2 linked regions of the Homo sapiens genome follow. The protein of the gene in region 1 purifies or fractionates together with the protein of each later gene. This does not show direct contact. Each region holds a gene or a part of one and is shown on either strand. Other genes may lie near its edges.

Region 1 (7,023 bases):
TTAGCCAGGCATGGTGGTGCACACCTGTAATCCCAGCTACTCGGGAGGCTGAGACAAGAGAATCACTTGAACCCAGGAGGCGGAGGTTGCAGTGAGCTGAGATGGTGCCAGTGCACTCCAGCCTGGGAGACAGAGCTAGACTCTGTCTCAAGAAGAAGGAAGGAAGAAAGGAAGGAAGGGAGGGAGGGAGGGAGGGAGGGAGGGAGGGAGGGGAAAGAAAGAAAGAAGGAAGAAAGAAAAAGAAAGAAAAGAGAAAGACAGAGAGAGAAAGAAAGAAAGAAAAAGAAAAGAGAGAAAGGAAGGAATGAAGGAAGGAAAGAAAGAAAAGAAAAGAAAAAAGAAATGTAGATTCATGAGCCCCACTGAGACCTACTGACTTGGAATCTGCTTTTTAACGCGATCTCCAGGTGTTTCCTGGGCATGTTCCAGTTGGAGAGGCTCTGCTTAACAGTGTGCCATTTCTACTTTTTAGGAGGGAAAATGTGCTTCCTTGCTCCTGGTGTTCCCTTCCACGTGGAAGGGCATCCATGAGTGTATTGCTCCTGGCCTCTCTCTGCCCCCTTAAATTCTGCTTTTGGAAAGGGGGTATGACCACCAGAATGGTGAGTGTGAGGAGAGGAAGGGGACACAGGGAGCCCAGTCCCTTTCTCTCTCAGCAGCAAGAAACCCGAAAGGACTCCACTCTTCTCTGCCCCAAGGCCTGGCTCCACGTGGGTCCAGCTCCACCATGATCGGGTGGTTCAATTTGCCTAATTCTGGGTTCACTATTCAGAGGCCAACACAGTCTCTAAAATCAGCTTTACCAGAATAAAGGTGATAACCTGGCCCACATGCACCTTACCCCTTTCAGTCTCATTCACTGTGTTCAGAGTTCAGGTAAAGACAAGTGACTATTTATTACGTCCCCCGGAGACCCTGGCACCACCGCCTAGAATTGCTCTTCCTTCAGCTCCCCCATCAGTCTCTTTCACCTAGTGAATTTCTATGCATCCTTCAAGCCTCAGTTCAAATGTCACATCCTCAGGAAAACCTTCCTTGACTGCCCAGACTTGCTGTCCTAACAGTTGCTTTCTTTTTTCTTTTTTTTTTAATTAAAAAAAAATTTTTTTTTAGATGGAGTCTCGCTCTGTCACCCAGACTGGAATGCAGTGGCACAATCTCGGCTGACCGCAACCTCCGCCTTCCAGGTTCAAGCAATTCTCTGCCTCAGCCTCCCGAGTAGCTGGGATTACAGGCACCCGCCACCATGCCCAGCTAGTTTTTGTATTTTTAGTAGAGACAGGGTTTCATCATCTTGGCCAGGCTGGTCTTGAACTCCTGACCTCGTGATCCACCGGCCTTGGCCTCCCAAATTGCTGGGATTACAGGCGTGAGCCACTGCACCCAGCTCCTAAGAGTCACTTTTGCAGTGGCATGTACTCTACTCAGCAGCTCTGGGCTCTGCTGCAACTCCACATTTATTTGTGGCTCATTATCGACTCATGTCCAGTTCCCTCTTTAGTTCCATGAGGGCGGGACCAAGGACTGTTCTCATTCACATGGTGCCTGGCATTCAGAGGCACTTCATAAATCCAATAGTATTTTGTTTTGGGGGCGGGGGGCGGTTTAGAAATAGAAGAAAAGGAAGAAATGGCGATAGGAGAGGAGAAGGAAGGAAAACGACAGGAGGGAGAGACAGATGAAGAAGAAAAATTAAAGAATTTGCAAATGCTAGGCTCTGCCACACATGGTCCTGTGGTGTCATCAAGGAGAGGTAAGCCTGGGGGACCCCCAACCCAACCGCAGAGGGCTTGCCCCAAGGAAGGGCAGGCAAAGAATTGGTTTCTGGGGCCCAGAAACCTGCCAAGTGAACAGGACAGACTTCTCTCCTTGTAGAGTGTCTTCCAGGCTATTCTTCCCTGAAGCCAACCACCCCACTCAACTCTGCCTTCCTCAAAAACCCAGAAGTGGAAGGCTGTACCCACTTGGTTGACACATGGGATCTGGGAACTAGAAGGGCCCTTAGAGATTACACCACCCAGCCTGCTGTGTACAGATGGGAATTGGAGGCCTTTGCAGAGATGGGAAAGGTCACATCTGCCCCTGGTCAGTGGCAGATCCAAGGTGGAAACCCAGGACCGCCCCTCCCTCCCTGTACAGGGTTCTGCCATCCACACCAGGCTGCCTTCCCCAAGAACAGAGAGCCTCCGTGAGCTCAGAGTGTGACTGGTTTAAGAGGCAGTGGCAAAAAGATCACATACTTGGGTCTCCGAAGCAGAACATCCTCAAATATGACCTCTCGGGGTTCCCGGGTCTGGGCTTGGAGCTCTTCCACCTCGGCCCTTAATACAGGCATGTTCTCCTCAAACTGGTCAATAATCTGAGAGGAAAGGCACAGCAGGGGAGAAGGGAGAGGCAAATGGCCCCCAACCAAAGGGAGAAAGGCCAAAATGAACGAGGAGCAAAGCTATCTGGGGAAATGGTATGGGTTCTGTCACTGGGACTTGCTGGACTCCAGGGAGGGGACTTCCCCATGCAAGGTGCGGCTGGCTTCCAAGTTAGTGACAATATTCAGTGGTGCTGAAACAGGTGAGGGATCATGGAGAATGGAGACAGGTTACAAAGTGGCGGGGAATGCTCAATCATGGGAATGAATGGAGGCTGGCAGAGATAGTGAAGGGCATACACATTAAAAACCAGTGAAGAGGCAAGATAATGAAAATTAATTCAAGAAGGCAGTGATGGTGAAGTTCATTAACACTGATAATGGGTGGTGGGCAGTAACAAGAATCAAGGGGTAAAGATGCACGGTGGTTAATGGCTGAATAGGTGATGTTTGGTGATGGTTGTAAATGGGTCATTAGCCAGCATTGCTGGCTAATGAGGCAAGGCCTAGGTCAGTGCCAATCGCCTTCCCAGATGAAAGACAAGTGACAGTAATGGCACCGGCAAGGAGGGAGGCCAACACCAGAGTCAGAGACCTCCTGAGCGCCAGATCAGGAGAAGCCTGACTCATTCCCACAGGCCGTGGGGACTGCCCATCCACTGCTTCCCTACAGGGACCACCACCTTCCTTGCCCACGCACTTCTCTGAACCTTTGCATGCATTTCAGGAAGTCCTGGCTTTCCCACATCTTCTGTAGGAGAGCCTCTTCATAGGGACGCTGGGTTTCCTGTGGAGGAAGAAGAGGTCTGGCCCCCAGGTGCCTCTTCCTGGGCAGCAGAACATGGTAGAGACCGATGGGGCTGCAGTGGGCCTGGAGGCAGAGGATGGGGAAGAGGGCGGGGTGGGGGTGAGACCTGGATCCCCGCTCCCACACAGCAACTGGCTACTCACCGCCACCACAGAACTCAGAATTTTTTTCTTCTTCTTCTGAATCTTGTCAGACAAGGATTCCAGGACCTTTCTGCGCATCTCACCGAGGTCATCCAGCTCATCCTGGGAGCCAGCAGAAGGGTGTTGGTCACCAGTCCTGCCTCCCACACAGTCTGGTGGGAGAGGGGCAGGGGCTCCCCTACCTGCTGGCTGTCCTTAACCTGCTGCAGCTGGCGCATAAGAGTGGAGATCTGGACAGACTTGATGGAATACTCATGGTCCATGTAAGTGCTCAGGAAGTTCACTTCCTCCTGGGTCTTCTCAATCTTGGCATTCAGCTGCTCTGCCTGCTGCTCAAGATCTGGGGAGGGGTTAGGGAGGTCAGCAGGGACAGGAGGCAAGACCTTCCCTCAAGCACCTGGGCCCCAGGAGGCCCAGGAGGCAAGGTCTCCTTGGCCAGTAACTGGGGTCTGGGCTGAGGTGAGCTCACACAGGGCTGGGAGGTGGTTAAAAGTTAAGGCTCTAGACGGTTTTCCACCCCTGCAGGAGAAGAGGCAATGCTGGGTAGGAAAAAGGAAGGGAATTGGTGCATGATCCCTAGACTAGTCCCCACTCTGCCACTGACTTGCCGGGTGGCTCTCGCCAAGACTGTCCCTCTCCAGACTTCAGTCTCCTCAGAGACACACTCAAGGAAGTGAGACCAGGCAGATGGGGTGACAGTGGCTCCCAAGACACAACCCATGGCAGGATTAAGACAAAGTCTATCCTGTCTTCCTCCAGAGAGACCCCCAATGTCTGGGGTTGACTGATCCACCACCCCTCTGCTCAGCAGGTGTGTAGTCTGCTCAGGGAAAAGGAACCACAGGCCAGGCAGGATGGAAGCCAGGAGACCCAGGTTCTAGCCCAGCCACTGACTCCCAGAAGGACCTTGGCAGGAAACAGAGCCAGGCTAGGATTGGATTCTGGCTCCTAGCTATATAACCTTCCACAAGCTACTGCACCTCTCTTAGCCTCGGTTTCCTCATCTGTAAAATGGGAGGACAGCTTCCCTGCCTCCAAGTAGTTGCAATGACTGAGTGTGTGCCTGTAACAATGCAGACATTGGTAGAGACCCAGATACGGGGCCTGGAAAGAGCTAAGTGTTGGGTAACTATGCTATTCGCTCTGTATCTTAGCATTCCCATCTGCCAAGAAGAGAGCCAATGGGGCTGAGGGTTTCTGAATGGCAAGTACAAGGTGAATGCTCTGCTGCTGACCTCCCCAAGGTGCCAGGGGGGAGGGTCAAGGAATTTGCCAGGGATTCTTACAGCTCATCTTGCATTTCTTCTTTTCTTCCCACTCCTGAAGCTCAGATTTCAATTGCTGCAGCCTCTTCTTGTTTGAGTACTCCAAGATGTCGATGATGGTCTGCGGGAGGGGTGGAGTCAACTCACCCACAGGCTCTGCTGGCTCTCAGAGGCGGCCACCCAGCACTTCCTCAGAGGAGTCCCCAGTCCCAACCTCACTCCCAGAAACCTGACCAGAGGCTAATCGGGACAGTAACAGTGTCCACCCATAGGGTTGTTGTAAGGACTATATAAAGACATACAGATCGCTTGCTATTACACGTAGAGGTGTTTGCAAATGCTGTTGGTGGTAGCAGCGACCTCTGTCGCACCGGTACAGTATGTGCCCGGTGAACCCCCTCTGGGACGGGTGCTATGGTGCCGCATTTCACAGAGCTCGGGGAGGCAAAGTTAACTAAAAGTCTCCCGGCCAGTGAGTGCTGGCGCGCTGGGATGAAACCCATCTCGGTCCTCTTGCAAAGCCCAGGTGAGGGGAGTGAAGGGTGAAGAAATGCGTCTTCCAGGTGGAGGAAGCACCACGTGCAGTGGGCGGGGAAAGGCAGGAGAGGGCGCGCGAGTGCGCGGAGGGAGGGCGGGACGGAGGGAGGGAGGGCGGGACGGAGGGAGGGAGGGAGGGACGGAGGGCGGGACGGCGGGAGGGCGGGACGGAGGGACGGAGGGAGGGCGGGACGGAGGGCGGGAGGGCGGGACGGAGGGAGGGAGGGAGGGAGGGACGGAGGGCGGGACGGAGGGACGGAGGGAGGGAGGGAGGGACGGAGGTTGGGACGGAGGGACGGAGGGCGGGCGGATGCCGCGGGTCTCACCGCCAGGGTGTCCTGCTGCTGCAGCAGGGCCCGCACGTGCAGGGTCGTGCTGTTCTCCATCTCCTGGATGGTCTCGATCAGCTCCCGGTTGAGCTTGCTGAGGAAGTTCTCACGGCTTCGGAGCTCTCGCAGAGCGGCCCTCCCGCTCCTGAGCGAGGTCTGCGGGCGGAGGGAAGAGCAGAGAGGCGGCGCTGCGCCCTGCCCGGCCTGAGCCCCCGAAAGCCCGTGGACCCGCCGCCCCGGCCCCGCCAGACGCCCGCCCCCGTGCGGCCTCCTGCTGGTAAACGCGGCCCAAGCTGGGCGGTTCCCCATTGTCTGCGCCGCCCGGGAGCTCCGGGACTCTCATCCGTTCGGAAACGCACGTGTACCCATCATCTCACATCCCTGAGGTGCGGGTGCATCTACAGTTGGTGGCGTGTCACCAACTAATCAACAAATATATTATTAGTGGGTAAATAAAGATGTGCCTTCATATCAATGGCTTCTCAGAATCAATGAAATATAGAAATAATAGTAAGGGCCGGGCGGGGTGGCTCACGTCTATAATCCCAGCACTTTGGGAGGCCAAGGTGGGCCGATCACGAGGTCAAGAGTTCGAGACCAGCCTGACCAACATGGTGAAACCCCGTCTCCACTAAAAATACAAAAATTAGCCGAGCGTGGTGGCGCGTGCCTGTAATGCCAGCTACTGGGGAGGCTGAGGCAGGAGAATCGCTTGAACCTGGGAGGCGGAGGTTGCAGTGAGCGAGATGGCGCCACTGCTCTCCAGCCTGGGCGACAGAGGAAGATTCCTGTCCCAATAATAATAATAATAATAAACGCCCCAGGTAGGTTAAGAAGGTGGCAGAGCGACCGCCATGTCTGGAGGAGAAGCAGGGGAGGCAAAATGGATGATAAACGTCAGCATTTCCGGGCAGGCCGCGGAGTCAATGAGTACTCTCATTTCACACAACAGCCCCCAGTGGAACAAGGAGGGTCTGAGGGTTAAGTGACTCGCCTAAGGTTACACCCAGCAGGTGCATAAAACCTACAGTAACAACAACAACAACAATTGTACTTCCCTAAGGTTACACCCAGCAGGTGCATAAAACCTACAGTAACAATAACAACAACAATTGTACTCCCCTAAGGTTACACCCAGCAGGTGCATAAAACCTACAGTAACAATAACAACAACAATTGTACTCCCCTAAGGTTACACCCAGCAGGTGCATAAAACCTACAGTAACAATAACAACAACAATTGCTGAGGGCCCTCTACATGCCAGGCCAGGTGCTGTGCCTTGCTCTGCAGGTGGCACATGGTATCTGTTCACCCTCCAACAGCTTTATGTTTACTAACTCTATTTTGCTGATAAATGGAGGCTCAGAGAGTTTAATGACTTGCCCAGTGTCACACAGTCAAGAAGTGGCAGGGCTGGAACTGGAAAGCCAGACTTCTGAATCCCAATGTCTGTCTTTCCGTTATGCTAAAACAAGAACTGAGTAGCCTTAAAACTGCAAGGCATGGCTGAACCACGTAGTGACTAAGACTTGGATGTTGAACCTAGACACACCTTGGTTCAAATCCCAGCTCAGC
Region 2 (7,023 bases), on another chromosome or scaffold:
AATAAATATTTAACAAAATAAGCTAGAAATTTCCTTTGCAACTTCCTTTGCAACTATCTAAACTTGTGATTAAATTTTTAGCTACCCAGGACACAGTGGCACTCATCTGTAGTCCCAGCTACTCGGGAGGCTGAGGCAGGAGGACCTCTTGAACCAGGAGTTCGAGGCTACAGTGAGCTGTCGTAGTGCCACTGCACTCCAGCCTAGGGCAACAGAGCGAGACTCCATCTCTATTTATAAATGAATAAATACGGTTTAAAATTTTTAGCCACCCACCTCAAATGTGCACAAGGATACGCTGTATTTTCGAAACTTGTCAGCGGCGCAGTGACCCCCTGGGCAGCAGGAACGTGCATGTCCCTGTGAGCCCCCCCCGGGGCTTGTCCTCCACCCAGTGGCCCCCGCGCCTGCCGCAGAGGGACACGGACGCCCTGCACGGCTGAGGGCCTCCCATGCTGCTGCTTGCAGGTGCTTCAAGCTGTCTTGCCGGGCTGTAGGCGTCCACCCACCCCTGGAGCTGTCCCACTACCAGATCAAGTTTGCCGCCACGGCCCTATACGACACCTCCGTGGCTACAGTGTACGTCATCAACTCTCACCTGAGCATGAGCTCACCGACCCACTCCAAGCCCCGCATTGGCTCAGAGGACGCCTCTCCCATGGGGCCCACGTCTTTCGAGTTCCTGCTGCCCCCAGACTCGCCTATCACCATCTCGCCCTCAGTGGGGACCGTGTGGCCAGGAAAGGTGGGTGTGGGCCCCACATGCAGGCTGGGAAGCAGGAGCTCCACGCCACCTGCATTTACCCCTGGGGTGTCTGGCTCTGCCCACCCTTAACCACAGGGTTTCAACCCGGAGAACAGGGGCGGGAGTGAACCTGACCCTCAGACCCGAGCAGGGCCGAGGAAGGATCCATGGCCAATGTGCATGGGGGCCCAAGGCCACCCCCATCGGGGGGGGTCACAGTGCCCTTGGTCCAGCCTGACCCCGAGAGGCAGGAGCTCCCCAGGCTGCTGGCCTGGCCGGAACCCATCCAGGGCTCCCAGGTTGAGACTGGGGAAGGCTGTGTAGTCCCTTGCACCTGTGGACCTCGCAGGCCGACTGGGAGGACAAGGTGTCGGCCACTCCCACCCAGCACTCTACCTTTCCTGCAGAGCAGAAAGCTCTGGGCCTGGCAGGGCCTTCGGGTGACCCTGAGGGCTGCCGAAGGCCTAAGTGAGGAAGGGCATGTAAGGGACAGTTGGCTCACATGGGATTTCAATGAATGCAGTGATTCAAAATGGATTTCATTCAACTTAGCGAAAGCCACTCGGTGATGGTTCTCACCCCCACACACATTACTGCAGATGCAGCTCTCCTCTCCCTCCCCTACCCTCTCCCCTCGCTCCCTCCCTACCCTCACTCCCTCCCTCCCCTACCCTCCCCCCACCCTCTCCCCCTCCCGCACCATGTCACCCCCAACCCCATACTGCACACTGCCTGTGGGCTCTGTCATGGAGGGACCCTTCTGTGGGAAGCCATTTCCAAGATGGAGGCTCCTTGGAAAGGCTGGTGTGTGCAGGGACCAGGTTAGGGTGTGGGACTCGCCCGTCAAACTCAAGGCAAGGGCAGGCTCAGCTGTCACTGCTGCCCCGAGGACAGGGGACCCAGTCCCGGCCTGTCCAGGACTCTATTCTCAGCACCTCCAATCACAGGACTGCCCCCTGCATGGCCAGAGGGTTTGGTGCTCCCGCCTGCAGCCCGCCCAGCCTCCTGGGGGACAGAGGTCAGGGAGGGGCTTCCTGAAGGGGCACGCAGCCTGAAATCTCAAGGGGGAGGTGACCTTGAGGGGAGTCCACGGGCAGAGGACGGTAGAGTGCCCGCAGGGGCTCCGGGGAGGTGGAGGGAAGTGGCAACCCCTGTGCCCACGCTGGTCTCTCCTCAGAGGTGCCTGGTCCAGGTGGCCTTCCGGCCAGTGCTGCCCGAGAAGCTGATCCGCCAGGAAGCCCTCCCACTCCTGAACAAAGAAATGGAGACCAAATCTGTGCGTGGGGCCCGGGAAGGAGGGGCGTAGGTCGGGGAAGGGCCTGTTGCAGGAACAAACTCCACCGCCTTCGAGTCCTGGGGGGCTCCGGCCACGTGCCGGGAGCACAGGGTAGACCTTTCCCAAGCAATGCACGTGTCGAGCTGTATCTGAGGTTAAAAAGCTTGCTCACCAAGACCCTCCCTTCTCTCTGGAAGGCACTGCCAGGCGGGAGCAGGGAAGGGTGGGCTCTGGAGGTGGGGGCAGTAGGGGCTGTGACCCAGGGGTGCAGCGGATGCAATGAAGGGCCCCTCCAACAACCTGGAGGCCCCGGGAGGCGCACCTGAAACACGGAGTGTCCTGCAGAATCTGCCCCACAAGTGCCGGCCCTGGAGGTGGCCTCGAGGCTCCTGCCACACTCCAGATGCACCCTTCCCAGCCTGGCTTCCTCCCACGGGTTTGCCCTTCCCGGCCTGGCTTCCTCCCAAGGGTTTGCCCTTCCCGGCCTGGCTTCCTCCCAAGGGTTTGCCCTTCCCGGCCTGGCTTCCTCCCAAGGGTTTGCCCTTCCCGGCCTGGCTTCCTCCCAAGGGTTTGCCCTTCCCGGCCTGGCTTCCTCCCAAGGGTTTGCCCTTCCCGGCCTGGCTTCCTCCCAAGGGTTTGCCCTTCCCGGCCTGGCTTCCTCCCAAGGGTTTGCCTTTCCCGGCCTGGGTTCCTCCTGGGCGTGCACTCGAGGGGAAGCACTTGCCTTCGGCCTTCCGCGGTGAAGATAGGGGAAGGCACCAGGGTGGGGACCCCGGTTCTGGCCGCCTCCTCACTCCGTGCCTCGGTTTATCCTCTGGTGAAGCAGACGCCACAGTCTGTGAGCAGCTCTGTGGGGGTCTGTGTGCCCCTCCGCACTGGCTACTGTCTTCCTCGGGCGCCGGTCGGCTTTTGCGTCCCCACATTCAATCCCAACTGCGGCTCCCGCGGTTCCCGCACTGGCCGCAGAGGAGCCACGGGGCACAGCTGGCTGTGTTTAGGGCCCTGCACAGCCCCACAGCCAGTCGCTCCCCCCACAGTTCCGAAAGAATATGGCCCCCCAGAGGAAGGACCTGCATGGACTGTCATTCTCCGTTCTTCGAGCACAGAACCGCGACAAGCTGTTCAAAGTCTCTGTCCCCCACGTCCTGGAGATGCGGAAGCGGGAGCTGAGGCCCAGGTGGGTCCAGGAGGGGCTGCCCCACCTGCTTCCCTCCAGGCCCCTCTGGTGGGACCCACTGTGGCCCCTGTAGAGTCCCCTCCCTACAGATTGCCCGGAATGACCCATGTGGCTGGAAGGACTGATGCCTTCAGACACAGCTGGATCCAGGTGCTGCCTTCCTGGGACCTACCCACCCCATTTCCCCAGGCCTGACACCCCTGCACACAGCCTCAATCCACGGGTGGGGAGCAAAGCCACCACCCCCCACCCAGCCCCCCGGGTGCAGAATGAGCCCTGGGAAAGCTCTAATGGGTGCCTGTGGCCCCGGGAAGGAACATGGCTCTCTAGCCAGGGGCCAAAGGCACCTGCCCCAACCCCTAGCCTCCAGCCACCAGCTGACGAGGACCTGAAGTGAGTGATGAGACCCCCACAGGAGCCAGAGAAGGGTGGAAAAGCCAGTTTGTCAGACACAACTGGGACAGCCACAGCTTGGGACCCTGGGACCCTGGGACCCTGAGGCAGAGCCGCAGGGGTCCGGCCTGGGCCGATGGTGGGTGGGGGCAAGGCGGGAGCGCAAGCCTCTGACTTCCTTCTAGTTCCGACGAGTACCAGGCCGCCCGAGCCACCCTGCTCAGAGCGTTCCAGGCGAAGTTTGACACATTTGTAGTTCCCTGTGTTGTTGCCAGTGGCGACATCAAAGACAGGAAGGGGTCAGAACCCCTGAGCTTCAGGTGCGGGGTGCTCTGGCCAGAACAGGGTGTGGTCAGCCGCAAACGCGCTGTCCCTCTGCTACTGCCCAACTCTGGGGCCTGGGCGGGCAGGGGGCCGCCCACCCTGCCCTCAGCATGCCCTTCCTATCCCAGCCCCCACAACACCCTGTACCTGGAGCTGTGGTGCCCGACGGTGGCACCATCTGTTGTGGTGACGTCCCATAAAGGCAAGACCATCTTTAACTTCGGCGACGTCGCTGTGGGTGAGACGCTAAGCCCCGCCCACACCTCCACCCCGGTGCCCAGGCACACCCACGCCTCCCCCAGCCCCACGGCCCACCCCTGGCAGAGACGCTCCCTGGGGCCTGGGGCTGGGGCCTGACGCTCCCTGCCCCATTTCAGGGCACCGCAGTATCAAGAAGATCTCCATCCAGAACGTCTCTCCCGAGGATCTGGCCGTGTCCTTGTCCACCCAGCTCAGGCGGCCTGCGGGGTGGGAGCGGGGACCGGGGAGGGCGTGGTAGAGCCTGCAGACACCTGTATCCCCTCCTTGACGTGGACCCTCAGCTGGACTTCTCCCTGCTGAACCCCAACGGCCCCTTTGTCCTGCTGAACCACTCCAGCCTGCTGCGTGCAGGTGGGACCCAGGTCCTGGTGCTTTCCTTCTCTCCCCACGAGAGCATCCTGGTGAGTCCCAGGCCCACCCTGGCCACACTGCGGCCCAAGGCTCCCCACACTGCAGAACAAAGGCACTGGCCGGGGCGGGCATCACCTGTGCTCAGGCCTGGGACTAAGCCTGGGTCTGCGAGCAGCCTGGCCCCCAGGCCCTCACACCAGCCGCCAAGTGAGCGGAGCTGACAGAGCCCCCCCAGAGCTGTCTCAACTCCAGCGTTGAGAACCCACTGCCCCTGAGGCAGAGCTCCCCTCGTGGCTCCAGCAGACATCGGTTCCTGGCTGAGCGATGTGGTCTCTTTAGGCTCAAGAAACACTGGACATCATCACCAAGAGAGGCACGCTCACCCTCACCCTCATGGGCACTGGCGTGGCGTCCATGATCACGTGCTCCATTGAAGGCAGCGTCCTCAACATGGGCTATGTGATTGCCGGAGAGTCTGTGTCCTCAGGCTTCAAGGTGAAGCACACGTGGGCCCTGGTGCTGGCTCCAGCCTCCCAGGAGGGGTTTCCACCAGGCAGGACTCAGGCCAGCTGTCAAAAGTGACCCGTGGGTCGGAGAGCCCGTGGGGACACAGGTGGCCCCCTCTACCCCTCCTCTACACAGCTGCCGCCTCTGCCGCCCTCTCCTGCAGGGAACCCGGGGCCTGTTTCTGGGGAGGCTGCAGATGTCCCCTAGTCCTCCCCACCTCCCTGTCCTCCTTGGCGCTCTTTGTCCCTCCTCCTCAGCCCCTGCACAGAGCTCCCCCACCCACCACCCACCCCCTGCCCTGCTGCTTGAACTCACTCCTTTGGAGCTCAGCTCAGCCACCGGGGGCAAGGGTTTGCAGCCCTCTGCAGTGAGCCGCACTGCCCTGCGTGCTCTCATGCCTCGCACTGCCCTGTGTGCTCTCATGCCTTCACACCAGCGTGTGCCCTCATGCCTTCACACCAGCGTGTGCCCTCATGCCTTTGCACCAGCGTGTGCCCTCGTGCCTTCGCGCTGCCCTGTGTGCCCTCATGCCTTCACACCAGCGTGTGCCCTCATGCCTTCACGCTGCCCCATGTGCCCTCATGCCTTCGCCCTGCCCTGCGTGCCCTCATGCCTTCGCCCTGCCCTGCGTGCCCTCATGCCTTCGCACCAGCGTGTGCCCTCATGCCTTCGCACCAGTGTGTGCCCTCATGCCTCCGCACCAGTGTGTGCCCTCATGCCTTTGGACCAGTGTGTGCCCTCATGCCTTCACACCAGCGTGTGCCCTCATGCCTTCGCACCAGCGTGTGCCCTCATGCCTTCGCACGAGTGTGGGTCCGGGAGGGACACCTGCTTCTCCGCCTGGCTCAGGGCGGGTCCTGGAGGCAGAGCCCGAGACGGGCGTTGCATGGAGAAAGGGTGCTCTAAGGAGAGGGGGTGAGGGCAGGGAGGACACAGGTGGGGACGTGGGTTCAGCTAAGCTGGGCCTGAGCGAGACTCAGGCGCCCTGGAGGACAGGTGACACCCCAGAGCTGTCCACGCACCCTAGGCAGGGAAGCCGAGCCCCGGCCTAGCAAAGGCTGATGAGAGGCTGGAAGAAGGGATGTTGGCACACAGCTCAATAAACCGCCACGTGTGCTGGCGTCATCAGGCCACCCGGGTCCCCACTTGGGTGTGGCCTCATAGCACCAGCCAAGTCCTGGGCACCGACGACAGGAAGGGGGCAGCCAGGCAGGGGCTGGCGGGCAGTGACCGCGGCCTGCTCTCTGCAGCTGCAGAACAACTCTCTGCTCCCCATCAAGTTCTCCATGCACCTGGACAGCCTCTCCAGCACCCGGGGCCGGGGCCAGCAGCAGCTGCCGCAGTTCCTCAGCTCGCCCTCCCAGAGGACGGAGGTGGTCGGTGAGCGGGGGGTGGGGGGTGGGTGGTGAGCTGCGGGGGTGGGCGGTGAGCTGGGGGAGTAGGCAGTGGCCTGGAGGGGGACAGTTGGTGAGATAGGGGGCTGGGCAATGAGATGGGCTGCGGGCGGTGAACTGGCAGGGGCGGGTGGTGAGCTGGAGGGGGGTGGTCGGTGAGCTGGCGGGCACGGGCGGTGAGCTGGGTGGGGGGCAGTTGGTGAGGTGGGGGGTGGGCGGTGAGCTGGGGGGGTGGGCAGTGAGCTGGAGGGGGCGGTTGGTGAGATGGGGGGGGTGGGCGCTTGGATCCATGGGAGGAGTGGGGGGCGCAAGGCCATTGGGGGGACCGGGCAGGACAGGGGCTCTGCAGGGGGGCGGGCAGGGTGTAGAGCTCTATGCAGCAAGGCTTGGAGGGCAGACAGTGATTGCAGGTGGAGAAGGCCAAACTGCACCCCACCCTACCCGCAGGGACGCAGAATCTCAACGGTCAGAGCGTGTTCAGCGTGGCCCCCGTCAAGGGCGTCATGGACCCCGGGAAGACACAAGACTTCACTGTCACCTTCAGCCCCGACCACGAAAGCCTCTACTTCTCCGACAAGCTCCAGGTGGTGCTCTT

What was found. Proteins that work in one complex are often made in the same cells at the same time.
Region 2: the proteins of C20orf96 (region 1) and CFAP74 purify together in Homo sapiens (co-immunoprecipitation; 2 studies listed by BioGRID and IntAct, with this or other methods). This does not show direct contact.

The regions. Positions count from the first base shown.
Region 1 is NC_000020.11:273,728-280,750, forward strand, and holds part of C20orf96 (uncharacterized protein C20orf96), read right to left. Parts: intron 5,604-7,023; coding exon 5,445-5,603; intron 4,703-5,444; coding exon 4,603-4,702; intron 3,657-4,602; coding exon 3,499-3,656; intron 3,419-3,498; coding exon 3,317-3,418; intron 3,153-3,316; coding exon 3,066-3,152; coding exon of another isoform or gene 3,033-3,065; exon of another isoform or gene 2,360-3,032; coding exon 2,241-2,359; intron 1-2,240.
Region 2 is NC_000001.11:1,923,782-1,930,804, reverse strand, and holds part of CFAP74 (cilia- and flagella-associated protein 74), read left to right. Parts: intron 1-468; coding exon 469-745; intron 746-1,922; coding exon 1,923-2,021; intron 2,022-3,058; coding exon 3,059-3,198; intron 3,199-3,776; coding exon 3,777-3,911; intron 3,912-4,043; coding exon 4,044-4,153; intron 4,154-4,292; coding exon 4,293-4,348; intron 4,349-4,457; coding exon 4,458-4,577; intron 4,578-4,866; coding exon 4,867-5,022; intron 5,023-6,284; coding exon 6,285-6,414; intron 6,415-6,875; coding exon 6,876-7,023. UniProt on the Homo sapiens protein: As part of the central apparatus of the cilium axoneme may play a role in cilium movement. May play an important role in sperm architecture and function.